Homo sapiens: one gene and its partners. The protein of the gene in region 2 interacts with the protein of the main gene of each other region in a pairwise test. Each region holds a gene or a part of one and is shown on either strand. Other genes may lie near its edges.

Region 1 (7,031 bases), on a different chromosome or scaffold from region 2:
ATTCAAGCCGTCTGTGGACAGCAAAGCTGAAAGAGCTTTGTAACAGTGGGGTTGCAGTCACCCACCCCTAGACACTACTGCAAGGCCAGAGCATAAAGCACTCGCCCCAGCCTCTGCACCTGCCCTTCTGCATGCTCCAGTCCTGCAAGGGGTTTGAGCAGCAACAGAACAGGTGAACCACACCCACCCCACGTCCTGCAAGGGGAATCAGGGAACTCTCCCATTTCAACACCACAGGATACTATTCAGCCATAAAAAAATAATGAAATTATGTCATTTGCAGCAAATATGGATGAAACTGGAGGACATTATGTTAAATGAAATAAGTCAGGAGGGAAAGTTAAGCATTGCATGTTCCACTCGTGGAAGCTAAAAGGAGTTAATTTTATAGAAGTAAAAGTAGAAGGAAGAATAGTAGAGAGTGGGCAGAGTAGGAGGAAGGGAGAGATAGGAAGAGATGTATTAAAACATACAAAATTACAGCTAGATATGAATAACTTCCAGTGTTCTACAGCACTGTAGCATGAAAACAGTTGAAAAATAATATATTATGCAGTTTCAAATAGCTAAGAGGAGGTTATTGAATGCTCCCAACACAAAGCAATGATCAAAGTTTGAGATAATGAATATGCTAATTACCCTGATCTGATCACCATATGTTACATGTATCAAAACATCACTATATACCCCATGAATATGAATATCCCATTTATTTGTCTATTAAAAAATAAAATTAAATAAAAAATAAAATAAAAAACCTCTTCAACAAAGTAGTGACAAAGGGAACTTCCTATACCTGATTATGAGTGTCTACAAAGAACTACAAAAACATCACCTTTCATCATGAAAGCTAAAAGCTCCCCCTAAGATCAGGAGCAAGGCAAGGATGTTCGTTCACTCACACTAAACAATGTATTTGAGGTTCTGGCCAGTGCTATGAGGTAAACAAACAAATGAGCAAAACAAAACCCCCAAATTTCCTTCCACCCAAATCAGCAGCACCTCAAATCTCTCTGGAGATACTAAAAATAATTTTCAAAATGCTGTTTATTATTTTCTGAACTCTTTCTCTTTCCTCTGGGTCAACTGTTCTATTTGTTGTTGTTCTGTCTCATTCATGCTTTTGGGTTTTCTTCACATGTGTGTTGAGTCCTCGCCCCTCTTTCCATACTTATGACTGAGGTATATGTAAAGTGCTCTATTGCAGTTATAGAATTCTGTGTCCTCCAACAGCTTTCAAGTTTTTACATGGGAAGACAGACTGGAAGGCCTTGGAAAGCTTGGCGGAGAGTTCACAGAAGTGAAGTCCTGGTGCCGTCTCTTCCTGCTTTGTCCTTGGACTCTGGCATAATGCTGAAACAGAAGTTTACTGGAACACATTTTTCCCCCTAATGTAGAAAGAACAGCATCATCATGAGGAGACAGAGTCTAAAGTCAGGAGATCTGTCTCAGATCCAAGGGCTGACAGCAGAGCCACGTGTGTGATCTTGGAAACACCCCAAGTTTCTGTCTCTCCACGTGTAGGATGAGGACAGCACCATGACCCATCCCCAAGCGCTTCGAGGATTCGATGGCCAAGTGCACTTGGAGGGCGTGGCAGAAAAGGTGCTCCATCGATGAGCGTTCCCTTCCCCCTTCTTCCTTCAGTGAAGAAAAGGCTCAGCCCCCATGGGCACCGCTTCTAGGTGGTGACCGTCATGTACTTCAGGTCTGAGAGGTTTTGCATTGCCACAGGTAAGTGCCATTCAACATCTGGTCACCATCTCTAAGGGCAGGAGGGTGGTCAGGCCTCTGCACCTGGACTCCATCCACTTCATTTCATGGCTGTAAACTCAAATTGTATATTTTGTAGACCTACTTCATTACTTGTCCCTGAAGTCTCTCTGAGTTTATTTGTGTGAAAGGAGAAGTGGCTTCCCACTGCTGGTATTCCCAGAGACAGCAGTTTTTAGCTACTGGCTGGGAAGTGGATGAAGCAGTGTTCACATACCTGGGAAGAGGCCTGGGCTGTCGGACATCAGGCCCAATTATCACTACCCAGGATGCCCTGAGGGCACCCCCACAGGATGCCTGTCTTGTCACCCTGAGCGCAGTGGCACTAGATAATGAGCGGCATGGCACCTCTGCACTCCCGCAAAGCCCCAGAGGTCCCCTACATCTACCTGTCTAATGTCAAGCCATGCTCTACTTGGCGACTTAAGGTGGAGCAGGACAGATCATAAACACTTGCCGAATAGTTGAGAACCTCCCATAAATATTCTCAAAGTTAGCCATAGAACCTGTTCTTGTTACTACCACAACCTCGAAGGCAAACTGAACGCTCCACATGCCCTTGCAAACATATGTCAGACAGGCCGACCTCTTCGGACCTGGAGAGGCTCCTTCATAAATGCCAGGGATGCACCTGTCTTGGGAAAGTGATTGGGGAAAACACAGCCAGCCACCCAGTGCCCAGGAGCTCCAGCAAGGGAGCCCCGCTCAGAACCAGGGAAACGAGGGGCCCTGCTCTGAACCAGGGCAATGAGGGGGCCCTGCTCTGACCCAGGACAATGAGAAGGCCCCACTCTGAACCAGGGCAATGGGAGGGGCCCTGAACAAGGGCAATGAGGTGGCCCCCTCTGAACAAGGGCAATGAGGGGGCCCCATTCTGAACCAGGGCAATGGCTTTTTGAAAACGGCATTATTTGGGAAACAGTATCCATTTGCTATAAACCAAGTGAAGCTATACAATACTCAAAGAAGTTAAAAATCACATTTTTTTTTCTTTTTTGGCTGAGTAGAACTGCCTTCTGGAAAGAGCTCAGATCAGTATTCACTGTTCTTTTGTTTCAGTAGTTGTCATTCTGTTCAGTTAGACCATCTGAAAAAAAAAATGATGCCAAAAGTCTATGGTTTTTGGCTCTGTGGTTGCAGTACTGGCACCCAATTTGTTATCACTTCCCTATATTGTGACCCTAAGCAGTCTCTCCCACACTGACTGAGCTTGGCTGTGGGACCTGCTCTGGTCAATGAGATAGTAACATGCAGGACACAGGCAAAGACTTGACAAGCCCTCACAAAGTGGGCCCCACCTCTCTGGCTGCCGCAAAATGAAGCCTGGGACAGGATGGGTGACAGCTGGGTGATGCAGTTACCTCTGTCACTGCAGCCAACAGCCCACCAGAGGCTGGCTTCCCAGCCTATCACAGCTAGCTATGGACAAGTGAGTGAGCCCAGGTGAGACCAGCAGAACAATCACCCAGCTGAGCCCAGCTCAATTGCCGACCCTCAGAAATCATAAGCTGAAGAAAGAGTTGTTAAGGCACTGTGTTTTGGGGGTGATTTGTTATGCAGCAAATGCTAACCAATACATGACCCTTTATTATTTAATGGAATGGAGAAAACAGTAAACCAAAGAACAGCTACTGCATGTTCAATGACACTTCTAACCAGTCATTAGTATTTTGTTAATTACCGAAGAAGGGAATGAAAAGCACCATAGCTATACTGTAAGAATGTTTCTGAGAAAATCTTTGTTTTCAGAGAAAAAGGACGAAGTTAACCACCGTGGTGAGGCTCTGAAATCCTCCTTGGCATCCTGAGCCGCATGTAGAAGCAGCAGCAGCCATAATGTGTCTCCATTCCTTCTGCTCAGAGCCTGTGGAAGGGGCCATTTCTTGGTCCAGGTGAGCTCCTTGGAAGCCGACCAGAAAGTCTCACTAAAGTGCCTAAGTAAACAACTTGCTGTTTCATCGATGTTACTTTAGTATAAATGCCAACATGCTCCATCTTACGTTATATTCAAAAGTCACTAGAAATATTAATACAGAGTAGGCACCGTTATTATGACTAAAGATTCTTATTGCTGTATTATTAAAAGAATTGTTTCTGGTGGGCTTCCACTTCTGCTGCTAGATCAGAGAAGCAGGACTGGGTGGGAAAGGTTACCTCCCCAGAAGTCTATACTACTTGTCAGAGCCTTGGACCTACTAAGACAGACAAGTCTGTGTCTGCCCCCACCCATTCCTAGCTTTTATTTAAGCTCCCCTCAAGCCTCCTCTTACTCATCCTCAAGACTCAGCCGGGGGAGGGCTCCTGCCTGTGTGATGACTTCTGAACCCCGCATTGAGCTCAGGGCCCCAGACCCTCTTCAGAGCTGATGGGGTATTCCATTCCCATAACTCCTGGGGCTGCATTTTCGTGCATCTGCCTCTCTAATTCCACTCCATGCGAGTCGGGCAGCATTTACGCTTTGCTGTCAGCAAAGCCCTCAGATCTTGGAAAACTTAGTAGACAGGGCAGAGGCTTCTGAACAGAAGCCAAGCATGCTCCCAACTTTCCACAGCTGCAGCGTGAGTGCCCTCCCTTCACAGGTGTCACCAGAGGGCATTGGGGCCTGCGCAGATGCCCAGGCATCACGTCTTGGTCCTCTTCCATGCCACGACTCTCCACTCCCTGCCAGTGGGCTTCCCGGGCTCCACCGGCTGGAGTTGCACCAAAGTTTCCCTCTCCATTTCTAATCCTCCCTCCTGACTAACGCTGGATCTCTCAGCTCCTGGTTCTCAATGGGGTCTCTCCAATCCTGATCCTCTGGTCTCCTTGGCCTGTCATTCCCTTGCAATTTCTCCGGCCTTTCTATCAAGTGTGGGGTCCCATGGTTGTGGGTCTGATTCTGCTCCAAACTTCCTCCCTATTGCTTTCTCCTGCCTCCTCCACCTTCCAGGCAGAGTGCACCTTGCCAAGGGAGCCTCACCTGCTAAAGATGGTCCCACATGGCTGCAGAAAGTCACAGAGCCCTGGGTCTGACCAGATCTTCACACAAACTCATACTGCAGCTGGGCAGTTTCTCCAGGAGTCTTTTCTAGAATGGGCACTTCCCCCAGTTCATTGCTCTAGACTGTCTGCAATCTCCTCACACCCCAGGAGCTTCTCTGGCTGTGCTGATGCTCAGCCAACACGAACCCCTCCTTTTCTTCCTCTTCAACCCAGAGCCCTTCAAACTTTCCCTTACCCCACCCTTCTCTTCTCTCCCAGGCCAGCATGTGGACTTCTTCTGAGAGGCCAGCTCTCACACATACATGCTTGGAGTTCAGCTCCTGCCTCCCCAAGACCACTCCCCAGCTGCTGGCCACGATCCTGAATTTTCCATTCTGAACATTTCCTCTCCACCTACAAAAATGTTCTCGCCTACCTTAGTGAAAAACAGACATCCCTTCCCCTTTTGGCCACACACTGCCTCTGAAGGTTGGACCTGCTCGGCGGTTTCCTTCCCCACCAAACTGACGGAAAGCCTGGCACGTGTTTCCCTGACATCGCGTCCTGGGAAAACACCCCTGGCCTCACTGCAGTGGAATGACTTGGGAGGCATGGGCAGCAAACCGCTAGTCCATGGCCTGCAGCAGCTGCTCTCACCCTCTCACCGGTGCTGTCCTGGGGGGACAATGTGCCACACACTCAGCAACCACTGTGCCTACCACACTATATCCAACGTGCAGTGTGTACATCTCTGTGCATGTAATTCAAATGCTGTCACCTGCCCTCCAGTCCATTAAAGAAGCGAGTCATCTAAGAAGTCAACTTATCTTCCCTTCAGGCTATCAGTACCTACACTTTCTTCCAGCACGGTTCAGCTCTATCAACAATCTCTCAGTAGTAACTGTGGAATGCAAAGTCAAGGAACCACAGGTGACAGTAGAAGCACCTCCCAAAGTGTCCCCTGTCAAGTATATTTCCAGCCTCATGTGGCTCTAGGATCAGGTGTCCCTCTCTCATCTTGTCAATGACCTCTCTGTCTCATGGGATGCGGGAGAGCAGGGAAAACCGATGAACCCACCAGCACTGCCATCTGCAGCCATTACCTGGGGTCATCTCATACCAGAATCACCGGTGAAGCGCCCCTGGGTTTCTGTTAATCTAAGTCTTTCCTCTCCTTCTATCTTCCATAAGCACTCAAGAGTGAAGGGCACCAAGACTGCCTTTGGTTTCTGCATTTTTGCACACTAGTTTCATTCCCTAACTTTTGCCAGGCATTCATGGCTCCTGCCCTCCCTAGAATCCCCATCACACATTCTTAGAGGGCCTCTGACAAACACATCCTGTGACCTCCAGCTCCTGGAACTCCTCCTCCTCCTCCACATCGTAGGACAGGGTGTGGATTTTTATGTCATCAGCTGAGAGGTCAATGAACTTCCCATCCGGGTACTCGAGGCTGTCTTTGGTGGGCGACCGGTCCTCGATGAAGGTGGTCTCGCAGCAGTCGGCGGCCACACCGTCCCCCCAGGAGCGCAGCACGCCCTCTGAATAGAGGATGATGTTGGGCCGGTAGCGGGACTCCACTGACTGCTGCAGGGTGTTGGGGTCCAGCAGCTGCTGCATCGGCTCACTCCTGCTGCTGTCCAGGCTGGCCGGCACTGTGCTGGCCCCCACCCGGTGGCTCTGGTACTGGGGCGCTGGGTAAACAGACACCAGACCATCTCTGCTCTCGGCCATCAAGTTTCTGGTGTTAATTAAACCATTCCTCTTGCCAGCATCACTGATTTTACTGTGCACCAGCATGCTCTTCTGTTCAATGATGCCATCCATGGTACTCTCTCCCTGGCTGGGCGTCAGGCTGGTGGGCTGGGAATGTAGGTTACACTTGCCTCAGGGAAGCCATTTCTCCTGGAGGAGGAGAAAACAGAGATGAGACAAGAGAATCACACTTGAAAACAAGCTAATCACCCAGACCCACATTGTTTCAGACTGTACCAGCCAGCTGATAAACGCATAGTAACTGTGAGAGTTAGATAAAATGCAGTCCTACCTATTCAGTGAATGTTAAAAAGGGTCTGTGGGGGCGGCTAGCCAGAGTTAGCAGAAATTGATTACCTGAATCTCTATAAAGTCTCTGCTTCCAAATGAAGGAGACTGCAGGAATTGGCTCCCTTGCAGCCTAGAGGAACCTTTGATTGCTAGCAGACATCCTGAAACCCACAGGTAAACCCAATCGCATTAGCATCTGACAAGTCCATAGGAAAACAGAACTGCAAATCTGTAAAGGCGATTAGCTCTTC
Region 2 (4,691 bases):
AATCAAGTTGCTCCAGGAGGTCAGGCTCCTGCAAACCACTAATGTCCCTGAGACTAGGGGAGATATAATCTCTGGTTTAATTAAAGTTGACTACAAGGGCTAGAGGTAGACTGTTTGAAAATATAGACATTATATTGAATTTATAAATTAAATTTAGAAATTTAGAATTAGGAAATCTAATTTACTAATTCTATTTATTTATTAATTCATTCATTCCTTTATTTTTGAATAAAACAGTTAATGGAACTGCCTCTAGGAGAACCATAATATGCAAGGGTGAGAAAAGTTAATAATGCTATCCTGCTGACTTGGAAAAAAGCAGTGTGCCTTTAAAATTACATGGAAATTAAAATAACATTTTTTGAAATGATTAACAGAGAGAAGTTGGGACTTGGTGGGTTAACAACAAACTATGTTATCTGAAACAAACAAACAAATTCCAGCCATCAGCCATTCATCCTTATTTTTTGCCTTCAAATCTCTCAAAATTTTTTTTGTCCTTCTGATTCCAATTTATAGGAAAATCAAGCAATGGTCTGAAAATTTTTCTAAGAGACATCATTGATCAAATTATAGTCATGGGGTCTCCCTAATACCCATTATCTTTTTAATGCAATTTTTGAAGTATCTTAAGAAAATAAAATATTGTGACCATGAACTACGGTTCATAAAAAAGTTGCACCAATATCTGTGTGCTCCTCTTGAGAAAGATTAGTTATGCCTTATTGCAACAAACAGAGTGCAGTGGCAAAGTTCCTATGAAAATCCTTTACACAGAAATTGATCCACCTTCAGTTTGATGTTGTTACTTCGGAACAGAAGAGGGCTGCAGATATTTCTCAGGTGACAGGTGAGCCTTGGTTGTCTATTTTTTTGTAAGAATGAGGCAAATAGAAGAGCTAACCCAGTACTCTGTGCGCCTCAGTCAGGCCTCTCAAATGACAGGCTCTACTTCAGCAGGGTGAGCGGGTAAGGAACTGGCTGTCATGTGGGGCACCCTGAACCCTGCCAGAATGAAGACGGTTTTATTTTGTGTCACTTTCACCCCAGCTTTCTTATTCATTTGGTTCAGGTTTTGGCTTGGCGGTAAGTGCCTGGCTGCCAACCAGGAGTGAGAAGTGTGGATGACTGCTTCCTACATAGATCATTAGTTAAAGGCCCTGTTTTCCTCCCTCCCCTCCTTTCTTGTGATATGCCGCCATTGTCCTTGCAGGTCTAAGTCCTCTCTGGATGCTGCTGGCGGGGGCCTCCTTTGTCAGCTGAGTCCCATCTGCTTCCCATCCACAATGAGGCCTAGTTCCTCCATGGACACTTCCTAGATTCCAGAATTTTATTGAATTCTTTCATTAGCTGATGCCTCTTGTGTTGTCTTCTGTCTTATGGGTTTGTACTGTTTTACTGTCTTCACTGGCAATTAGTGGAGCCTTAACAGGAAGGAGTGTTAAATATGAGGGACATCGTAGTGTAATGGCTGAGAGTATAACCTCTGGACTGAAATGTCCTGGGTTCAAATTACTGCTCTGCTACTTCCTAGCTGTGTGACTTGGACAAGGTAATTAACCTCTCTGTGTTTCAGTTTCCCCTACTTTCAAAACGGGATGATAATGATACCGTTTCACAGGGCTGTGACGAGGAATCAGTCACTTAGTATTGGTAAGGGCTTAGAGGATGGCATGGTCCCTGGCATGTGGTGTGTGTTAAATAAGCAGCTTGTGAAACATTTCATCTTGAACTGGAAACCTAGAACTATGATTTGAGCCCAGGCAGGTCTGGCACCAAAAGCCACGCTCTTTTCCTCTATCCCCCACTGATGCTTCAAAGGCATCAGATGGCCCTGGCCCAAGGGCTCTGGGCCAGAGATGTACATGCTAGGGAGTTGTTGGCAGATGGATAAAAATGAAAGCCACAGGGATGGCTGGCTGAGCTTACCCAGAGGAGTTGCTGGTTTCCCAGTAGCCAGGGTTCTAGCCTTAGCCCTGACATTTACCACGCATCCTTGGAAAGTAAAGGCATCTCGCCAGGCCTCCATGGCCTGGGCTGCCAATCAAGGTTTTACGTTCTCCTTCAGTAGGTTGCTCAGCCTCTCAGCTAATACCTGCATGTGAAAGTTCTTGCAGAGGACAGGGACCCCTGTTACTGCTCCTCTTTTGCCACAGCCTGCCTGGATGACCAAGAGCTACCGAGGAGCATGGTGTGGGTGGGGTGGTGGCCAGCAGCCTGTGTGGGGTTCCCAAGCTTTCCTAGCGGCCTGAAGCTGCCAGCCCTTGATTCCAGAGACCAGGCACCATGTGATTCCCCATGGGGTGCACCATTGGCTCTGGGCAAACTGGAGAAGCCACTCATGTGGGGTTGGGCAGGCTACTTTACTGACCATTCCTTTCTTCAGGGGTCCCAGCTGCCAAAGCCCAGAATGCTGAGAGAATCAGGCCATGGGGATGCCCATCTCCAGGAGTACGCTGGCAATTTCCAAGGCATACGTTTCCATTATGATCGGTAAGAGCTGAGGGTCTGTGGGCCCTGGCTGCTCAGACAGGGCCCGGAGTGGGGCAGAGGGGCTGGTGAGCAGCCTGGCCAGGATGGAGTCATGAGGGCCTGGAATGCCTCCCTGTCAGAGACCATGAGTACCCTGGCTCCCTGCCCATTTGGGGCATCCCAGTGCTCTGCGGCCTAGCCGAGTTGGGCTGGACTGGGCTGGGCCAGGCTGGCTCAGGCTAGCTCAGGCTGACTCCCAGCCCTCAAGGCCCTAGGCCCTCTTTACCATGGAAGAGGACTGGAGGCTGATAGAGTCACTGTCCAAGAAGATCACGACCTTACCTGCTTGACCTCACTGCCTTCTTGTGCTCCCTGCCAGGGACCACCAGCAGCTTTGACCATCTGTCTTTTTTCTCTCCCAGCAACCCAGGGACAGATGCAGTGGCGCAGACTAGCCTGGAAGAGTTCAATGTACTGGAGATGGAAGTCATGAGAAGACAGGTGAGGAGGGACCCAATCGGTGGGTGCAAGCAGAATCACAGTGCCTTGGAATAGGCAGGGCTCGACAGCTGGGGTCCTGTAGTCCCTTACAGTCATCTTTCCCTTTAGCGCTGGAGGTGGGGCAGATTCCCTTCCTCTTCCTCCTCATCCCCATGGCTCTGACACCCCGCATAGATGTCCAGCCTCAAACTCACTGCTGTCCCTGAGATGCTGGTAGGGAATAGGGGCAGATAAAAGGTGGAGGAAGAGGGAACATACAAGGATAAGGGTTCTATGTCCAGAGAGAGAGTGATACCTAAGGGTCTGAGAGAGGGGTCGCCTTTGTTCAAACCAAACCCAGACCTTCTTAGGAGGAGATCCTTTCTTCCTTGGCTCCCCGGCGCAGCTGGAATGGGCTGGTCTCTTCCAGAGAAGGGAAGTGAACATAAGGGAGAAGGCAAAAGTGGGGCCTGCAGACGTAGCAGCCAGGTCTTTGGTCCCGCGGACCTGGCCCAGCCTCCTGCTTCTCACTAGGGGCGCTCCCCGCTCCACCGCCAAAGGGCAATCAAGCCCCTTCTTGCTCTAACTTTATGCTTTTCCCATGGCTGTGCTGTGGGCTTCTGGAGAAGAGCCTCGCTCAGCAGCCCTGCCTTTGACTCCTCTGCAGCTGTATGCAGTCAACCGGCGTCTGCGCGCCCTGGAGGAACAGGGCGCCACCTGGCGCCACAGGGAGACCCTGATCATCGCCGTGCTGGTGTCGGCCAGCATTGCCAACCTGTGGCTGTGGATGAACCAGTGATCGCCCCAGCGCGGCCTCCGTATTGGAGCCCTCCCTGCTTCCCCTTCTTTCTTTCCTCTTTCCCCAGGCCGCCACTGCCCTTGCCCCTTTCATCTCCCAGCAGCCCTCAGGAGCGTCAGGATCATTTTCAACTCTGGTTAGGCCTCCTACCTGGGGAGGCCAGGTCACTGCACTGGGAGGTCCTGGCTGCTGCGAAGCTGGAGGAGGACTGCGTGGGCTGAGATGCCACCCTTTGAAGGGTGAACAGCATGGCGGCATCTGGGCCCCACAGTAACACCTAGTGGCAACCTTGCCTTCCTGACCTCAGCGGCCCTTCTGTTCCATCCTCTGTGGGCAGGGGTGTGGCTTTGTTTTCCTCCCTCGTTTGCTTCCACCTCGTGCACAGCGCTCTGCACAGACAACACGCTCAATAAAAGTTCAGCCATAGCAGCAAAACCCTGTGGCTGAGGTTCCTGTGTCCAGCACTCACTGGGGGCAACAGTGGAGGTGGGGTGCGCTGGGAAACAACAGCTCCTCTTCACAGAGACCTTGTGGCTGGGACTGAGCCTCTGCCATTGCCCCAGGGGCCCTGGTTCCCTCCTCCCTTTCACCTCCCCCACCTCCCTGTCCCCAGCCCCAGCTTTGCAAAGTTCTTCCTGTTGGGCTCATGCAAACCAGTGCTTGTGGGGGTGTGGTTCTGGGAGCATGTCTGCGCTGTGTTGCAGGGAAGCAATCAGAGGAAATCTCCTGAAAGGGACCAGAAACCTCATTTGCGCAAGAGGAAATTGAATTCCAGAGAGAGGAAACATGTCCCTGGGTCATCCAGTGAGACAGGGCCTGGATGTGAGTTCTCTGGCGTGAGTTCTCCTGAGTCCTACGCTAGGGCTTGGCCTGCCTCCTGCAGACAGACTCACTGGAGATGAGGTCCTGCCTCAGCTCTGGAGGCTGAACGGGAGCTACA
Region 3 (7,730 bases), on a different chromosome or scaffold from region 2:
TGAAATGTAAGTTTTAGCTCTGGCTCACCTACCAACTAAATAGTTCTAATACAAAGCTATTTCTGTATTGTTCATGGCTGTATCCCAAGTGTCTAGAATATGTTGAATAAATAATCAACACTTCCACATTCCACTTGTTAGAACAAGAAAACTAACCGAGGTTAGTCAAACCCTCTGAGTCCTAACTTTTCTCATCTTTAAAATAAGAGCTAGTATCTCCCAAAATATGGAAAATACAGCATCAAAGGCACTTGCTATTCAAAGATCCTTGCTACTCAAAGAGTAGTCCAAGAATCAGGAGCATCAGTGTCACTGGGATTGTGCTGGAAATGCGAGCTCTTGAGTCCCACCCCAGTCCTACTGAATCTAATTATGCATTTTTAACAAGGTTCCCTAGATGATTTCTATGCACGTTAGAGTTAGAGAAATATTGATTTAGATGGTACTAGGACTCAACATTAAATGGCCTGTAATCACCTAGTGGGAAGGTTATCCCTTTTCCACTTATCATTCAATCTTTTTGGTTACTTTATGGAGAAAGACAGTTTGATGTCAATGTCTTTAACACCTCACTAACAGCTGCTAATTTCCTTTTTAACAAGGAGAAAGCAAGCCTTCGGTTCCTGGGAAGGCAAAGGTATTTATCTTGACTATAATAGCATTGTTTTATTCTCATTGTGTTTGTTTAAATAGTTGCCTTGTATTTATGGCAACTGATATCAGTTTTCTATTTAAGGTAGTGATGAAAACCTCTTTAAAATAAATTAATTTAGGAAAGTGAATGTAATTAAAGGAAGGAAACACATAATAAATGGGAAGAACTGTTTGCTTTAACGATTCCTTCCATGTCAAGGAACTCCATTGGTTTGACAGTCCTGACCTCTGTCTTGACTCCATAGTTTCACTGATTAGGCAACTTTATTTACTCTGCATGGGGTAGGAGTGGGGAAAGTGCTATATTCTATTGTAAATTTAGGAATAAAATGAGCATGCTTAGGTCAGCATCCTCCTTCTTCCTTTTGAAATTTAAATACCTAGAGGATAATTTACTCATAGATAATTTGCTTATAAATTTCCAGTCCAATTGGTAGGATCCTAGCAGCAGGTTGTTTGTTTAATAGATCTTTATGGTGTGCCTATGGTAATGCTAGGTTCTGGTTGTGTGTCTTATTTTCTGTCTTCCTGCTGCTCAAAGGTACTGCTCCCTTTGGAAAGTTCCAGACGAGCCTCTAGCCAGGCTATCACAGTGTCTTTGGTTTCTCAGGTTTTGAATCTGCTCAGAGGCAAGAGTCAGGGGCACTGATGAGCTTGGGGTCCTTCTAGAAGAAAGCATCAGGTACTCATTTTCATGAATCATGAGACAAAAATGGAGAATTGTTTTTAAGGCATCTGGCCAATTCCCTCATGGCTTAACCACCATCCATTCAAGCAGGTCAGTCATGAGGGATTTTAGTCGTTACCCTTTTAATGACCCTATTTTGGCAAAAGGCCCTAGATAAGAGTGCTCTGCTGCTTCCCTGGAGAGTAATCGCTTTTGTCTCTGAGCCCCACATTTGCTTATGTTAGTTCTCTATCACTTAAGTGGTGCCCCTTTACTCTTCATTATATTGTTCTGTTGTATTTCCATCATGATACTTATCTCCACTGCTTTGTTTACTTGTTTGTGGTCTGACCCCCTGCTCTAGACTGTAAGCTCAAGGAGAGCAGAACCATTTCTGTATTGTTCATGGCTGTATCCTAAGTGTCTAGAATATGTTGAATACATGAATCAACACTTCCACATTTCAACTGTAGGAACAAGAAAACAAGGATGTGTACTTTAAAGATCTAGTTAGTAGTCACTTTGTAAGATCATTGTTGAACTCTGGAACTTCACCAATTGTTGCGGCTGTGCATGGCTCTAAATAATTAAATTTTTGTCTGCTGCATTTATATTTCTTTGTTCATTAATGCTCTACTTACAGCTGGAAAGTGTTTGCAGTGGCTTATGATAAAGTCAACAATCATCATGCAAAAGACAAGAGCTTATAAGTAAGGGAGGACCCAAGGGAAACCTTTACAAGAAATCATTGCTAAGGTATAACTTTCTACTGCAATCTATGCAAGATCGGTTCTCTAAGTTTCCTTTTCTGCTCTTCACTGGGTAAAGTTGCCTTGGACATTTAAAACTGCTTTGAAAAAATATATATTCAGAGTCCTTGAGCAATTTCTGGTGAAACTGTTCAAAATTTTCTGAAATTTATGCTTGTCCAGGTAACTGCTCATAAAGGCATCATGGCCAAATTAAATGATTTCATGCTTATTTTTCCCTTTCTCATGTTTCTTGATGTCAGTGGAGAGGTAGGCAGGAGTCAGAAGCAGCATTTTACCTAGCCCAGACAATTTTTTCAGTGGTATATATAGAAGCATGGTTGACACTTTCTGGTCTTTTAGTCTCCCTAAATACAAAGAGGTCCAGATTAGCAATTTCCAAAGAATATTAAGGGGAAGTACACCAGGAGATAGGATTGGAATCTGCTTAAGGTTGGAGGGTTCCAGGAGTTCCTGGTTTGTGTGAGGATTTCATTGAGTTTATTGGCAGTGGACTAGAAACACATATCATCATTCAAGCTGCTGATGAATGTCTAGAGTTTGTTCCTAGAATCCAAATTTTTTTTCTTTGAAATCGAAGCCATTTTGAATTACCAACCCAAGTCAATTTTACCTAGCAAAGGCAGAAAAGTCTAAACCCTGCTGTCTTGAAATATAGGCACAAACTTTTCTCAGATAGTAAATATTCATAACTATTGTGATTGTGGCTGGTGTTCCAGAAATAAAAGGCCAGGGAAATATGGAGATTTAAATCAGAAATTTATCCAGAAAAAGGTGAAACAAAGAATGCAGTTCTCCAATAATCACATCCCCTGAGCTACAGGCATACATGCAGACTTAGAGCAACACACCAACATTTTAGTAGCTGCATATTCCATGACAAATCCCATCTTCCCATCTTATCACCCTCATAATTCATTTGGACTAGAATAGACTCAGGGTTTTCTTCAGCCCATAGTATTCATACTCTTTACCTTTTACAGTGACTTCTCATGTGCTATCCCATCTAAACATCACAACCATCTTATATAGAAGGCAGGTAGACATTCCTTTCCCATTCTGAAGATGAGAGTCTGACAATTTAAGTGATTTGTGAAAAATCATATGATAAGTAGCTGGCAGAACCTGCACTGAGATTCCAAATTTCTGATTTTTTAACTTTGCACTTTTCCTACAATGTCTCACAGCTTCTTGGTGATCCCAGGAGGTCTAACATATCCTGCAGAACTACTCAAAGCTTAAAATATGGGGATATTGTCAGGCTTAGATGCTCATCGAAGGCAGTAACAAGCTTGAGGTAGGTGGACTAACCAAGACTGTCCTGGCAATGATCAAGCAACTTTCTGGGAAGAGCCCAGGGCAGACCCACAAAGTAGAGCTAGATTTGAACTGCTCCACCCTAGAGGAGTATCAGTCAGCCAGTATTCTCCCCAAACACAAGCCCAGTGAATTCATTTCCAAGGATAGGAGAGTTACATTTTGTTGCCTCCCATGTGTTTTGAGGGCTTGGGCCAAAGTGCAAGAATTTATGTAGATAACTTTCATCCAAATCAGTCTACTCAATGCTTGTTAAATAATTCATTCGGTGATGTGGCCAAGCATGCCTGGGTTGGTCCCATCTAGTCCCAATCCTTTTGGGACATAACCTGGCTCTAGGACACTCATCTTAAAGGAGCTAATACAAAACAGAAACCTTATCTCACTCTTGTCTCCGTTTAGACTGGTACTTGTCTAGCCTGACCTCACAGATGCCTCCTTCCATGTTTAAAAGATGCTTTCACTGTATTAGCACACATCACATCCTTCTTGCCTTGTGAAATTTATTTTAACAAAGGTGGGGGAAAAAGAACTCTCCTTTATTGAGCTCCAAATACCTGTCCAACTCTAGGCTAGGCAATTCTAAGAACATGATGATTTCTCAATCTCATGACAATACTGCAAGGTGGTTATTTCACAGACGAGAGAAGAAAAGCTAGAAAGTTAAATGCTCCAAGGTCATACAGATTGGAATCCTAATGGCTCTTCAAATCTCAAGTCCATGATCTTTGCACCCATAAGATGTTGTGAACCCAACGATAAACTTAAGCTTTGAAGACAGAGGTGGGTCTTGTCTTCTTTAGGAGGAGAGGAGAAATCAACCTCTCTCATTTTTTCTTTCCTGTAGGGCTCAGGGATGTGGAAGTTTAAGAGCAACGAAGGCTCCGCAGAGGATGAGGGAAGCTTCCAGAGGGCAGGAAGGAGGTCTGGACAGCCCAGTCTAGCAGGGGCAGAGCTGCGGCAGATGCCTTCCCAACGCACAGACATTGCAGAGTCCTGCTGGTCCCTGCTTTCCCAGGGCAAAGAACTGCCCCCATCCACGGCCCCCTCAACCTCCCTGCAGCCTGACATAAGACACTGGAGGTCACAACTGGAGGCTCAGAAGGCCAGCGAGGAGTTGTGAGCGGCAGACAGAGGGGAAGGCAGGGGGGCCAGGTGGGAGGTGGTCTGGTGCCAGGCTTGGGCCCAGTATGTAAGGGGTTGGGCAGGCCATGTGACTCCAAGGAGGCGGAGACAGGCGAGCTGGAGGGAGGACGAGCAGGCACGGGGAGGGGTTCGGGGGGTGGGGGCCCAATCTGAATAATTGAGGAGCTGTTCAGCAGCAGCGGCTGCCTCCTGCCTTCCTTTGCCGCCACCACCACTTCCCATCCCAGCTAGAGAGACAGCTCCGCGCAGTAAGTGCGGACTGCCAGCCACCAGCCTTGGCAGCCAGCTCGTCGCCTCCAGCCCCGACCCCGGTAAGTGAACGGCCCCCTTCGCTGCCGTTTGTCCCCCTCCGCGCCCCCCGCGCCCCAGCGGGACCCCTGCAACTGGGATGGCCGCCTCTCCCGGAATGACCCAGGGAGCCGGAGTCACCGGGAGCGGGGGACCAGGAATATGGCGCGGAGGCCCAGGGCGCCCTCCGAGAAGGGGTTCCCTGGAAGAACCGAGGAGGTGGGTCGGGCTCTTTCCTGCTCTGGCCCGGAATGAGGCCCCGACTGCCCGCGGTCTGGGGGCACCGGGCTCTGACTCGCGGGAGCTGCCGGGCGGGGCGGGGGCCAGCGCGGCTCCGGCGCCGCTAGAGCGGGAGGCAGAAGGGGAGCCGCGAGCGGAATGCGGGCAGCCTAGGTCTCGGCAGACGCCGGGCCCGTCCTGTCCCCCGCCTTGGCGCGCACCCCGCACGGGCAGCTCCGTTCTCCGCCTCGGACCGAGACCATGAAACGGAGACGCTTTTCCGGCCGCAGACTCCGGGGAGGTCGGGAGCAACGTCTGCCCTTTTACCTGGGAGCAAACTCCTCAAAGGGACTCCCGCCGAGCCCAGCACCCCGACCAGGATGGTGGCGCCCCGAGGGGCGTCTGTCCCCGGAGAGTGGTGACTCTCCCGGGAGCGGCGAAGAGGACGTGACGGGAGCGGTGTCCAGGGAAGCTCCCTGCCCAGAGCCGGCAGCCCCAGCAAGGGGAGCTCTCCTGCACTGCTTCAACCCTCAGTCTCCTCTCTTCTCCCATTCCAAAGCACATCAGCTCCCCTCTAATCCAAGAGGGCCAGGTTAGGGCTGCGTGGCCACGCGGGATGCAGCCCCCACCCTCCTTCTCTCTCCTGTGTCACCCTGCCCCCTCCCCAAATGAGTATTTTATATTGCGATTGAAGAGTGAGCAAAGCAAAGGCGAGAAGAGATGCAGGAAGGCTAGAGCAGCGGGGCTCGCTCCTGTTCTGGCACTCCTCATCCCCCCACCTGTGTGAAGCTCGTTTCCTTGAGATTTTGAGCGGAGACACTCAAAGGAACTGGCTCTGGCGAAGGGATCCCCGCCTGAGTGTCGGTGAACGTCACTGGCCCGAATTGCCCAAGGGCCGCAGGATGTCACCCTGCCTCCCCCTAGGTATAGGGTCTAGGAGAGCGCTGGGGGCAAGGTAGCTCTCCTCCTCCGACTGAGTGCAGGGAATGGCGCTGTCCGCGGTGCTGAAAGTTCTCAGAGGCTGGGTGCTAATACCGCCAGGGCCCACATTCCCTGCGAGCAGAAACTGCGTTAGAACCCTAAAGGGTTCTAAGCAAGCGACCTAGAGAAACAGGAGAAGAAGGGGCTTTGCCTTTCCCGGTTTTCTGCTTCCCCAGGACTCCGCTTGGGAAAAGGTTCCCGGCTTTCCTGAGTGGAAGAGCAGGAAGCGGGTGTCACTTCAGGATCCAGTTTTGCTAACTTCGGGAGCTTCCTCGTTCTACTTCCTATACCTGAGCAGTGAGACTTCCTGTCGGTAAAGTGTTGAAAGGCAGTTAGGGATGCTGTTTTGATAATAAACATTTCTGTGGCTTTCAGGAATCAGAGAATTGTTAGGCTACACAAAGGAGGGGCTTCATGGTTGTAGCTTTTTCCTCTTCTTAGAACCCTTCTTTCCCCACTGCATGTTATTTACATGCTCTAGATAAAGATCGCTAAGCAGCCCTGTATGTTTGTTTCTTTAGCTAGTCTTTTATATTATGGGCAAGATGGGGAAAGGATTGAGCCAATTTGGGGAGGCCTATTTGTACTGAACACCTCTATCTGCTGGGTAATAATATTTCATTTAAACTTCACAATAGCTGCCAACCAAAAGTATCACACAGAGAAGGAAACAGAAACTTGATTCCAGAGATTGGATTCAAAATCAGATCTATTTAACTCAAAGTCCAAGCCATTTTCATGCCTTCATTTTGGTATTTGGCTCTGAATAGCTGTTATTGGAGATTATAGCAGGAGAATGACAAAGGAGGGAGGCCTGCTCTTCTCTTTCACACACTCTCCTCTCTTCCAACCCTTTTCTCTTTAATCCGTTCACCCACTCACTGTCATGCACTCCCACCCTCCCAACTGCTTTTGCATGCTGCTTGAGATACCACTGTTCACACAACTTCAGCTCCAATATTATGGAAACAAGTTAGAGAACTAAACCAGCAGCCTTTTCTAAAAGAGTAGCAGGGCTTCAGGAAGTCTGGAGAACTAGAGTCCACATGTACTTTCATATTTAGAATTATACTGTTGAATTTTAGAACTAGAATAGCTTTGAATATCATTTAGCACCATCGTTTTACAAGAAAGAAAACTTGGAAACCAAAAGATGGTCATTAGTCTAAGTCACATGATTGAAAAATTAGAACCCAGTTAACTTGATTCCAGGCCCAGGGCCTTTCCCACTATTTCATGGTGTCTGAAATACTCTTCCATACTGCTTTCTTTGATTATCTTTGACTAAACGTCAGCATCAGTGAACTAAATTAAACAACATGCCAAAAATACAAACACTTAACATACAAGCATTCCTCTTACCTTTCTTCCAACTCCTTTGTCTTCCAGCTCTTTCCCCTCTGGTCCTACTATTCCAGTGTTGTCTAACCCAACATACCTGGGAGATATGACCCACCTTCCTCAGTAACAGTTTTCTCTGAAGCAGCAATTCACAAATGGGAATGGTAGTGTGTCATTTCTTTACTTGCCCTATCTTGTCTATATCTCCTCTTCTATGACCTATTCCCCAAAAAATAATTTTCCCAAAATTGGTTACCCTAAGCAACTGCCCATGTTCTCATAGGGACTGGGAAAAGGCCCTAATAAGACCTAAGGATTTTTATAAATAAAGATCATTATAAGTGCTA

What was found.
Region 1: the proteins of FATE1 (region 2) and SYNDIG1 interact in binary tests that used the Homo sapiens proteins (3 or more experiments, as listed by UniProt).
Region 3: the proteins of FATE1 (region 2) and SLC7A14 interact in binary tests that used the Homo sapiens proteins (3 or more experiments, as listed by UniProt).

The regions. Positions count from the first base shown.
Region 1 is NC_000020.11:24,542,628-24,549,658, reverse strand, and holds part of SYNDIG1 (synapse differentiation-inducing gene protein 1), read right to left. Parts: intron 6,640-7,031; 5' UTR 6,562-6,639; coding exon 6,082-6,561; intron 3,791-6,081; coding exon of another isoform or gene 3,788-3,790; exon of another isoform or gene 1,030-3,787; intron 1-1,029. UniProt on the Homo sapiens protein: May regulate AMPA receptor content at nascent synapses, and have a role in postsynaptic development and maturation.
Region 2 is NC_000023.11:151,719,009-151,723,699, forward strand, and holds the end of FATE1 (fetal and adult testis-expressed transcript protein), read left to right. Parts: intron 1-2,386; coding exon 2,387-2,493; intron 2,494-2,894; coding exon 2,895-2,973; intron 2,974-3,619; coding exon 3,620-3,751; 3' UTR 3,752-4,186; downstream 4,187-4,691. UniProt on the Homo sapiens protein: Involved in the regulation of endoplasmic reticulum (ER)-mitochondria coupling. Negatively regulates the ER-mitochondria distance and Ca(2+) transfer from ER to mitochondria possibly implicating it in the regulation of apoptosis.
Region 3 is NC_000003.12:170,583,046-170,590,775, reverse strand, and holds the start of SLC7A14 (solute carrier family 7 member 14), read left to right. Parts: upstream 1-4,700; 5' UTR 4,701-4,865; intron 4,866-7,730. UniProt on the Homo sapiens protein: Imports 4-aminobutanoate (GABA) into lysosomes. May act as a GABA sensor that regulates mTORC2-dependent INS signaling and gluconeogenesis. The transport mechanism and substrate selectivity remain to be elucidated.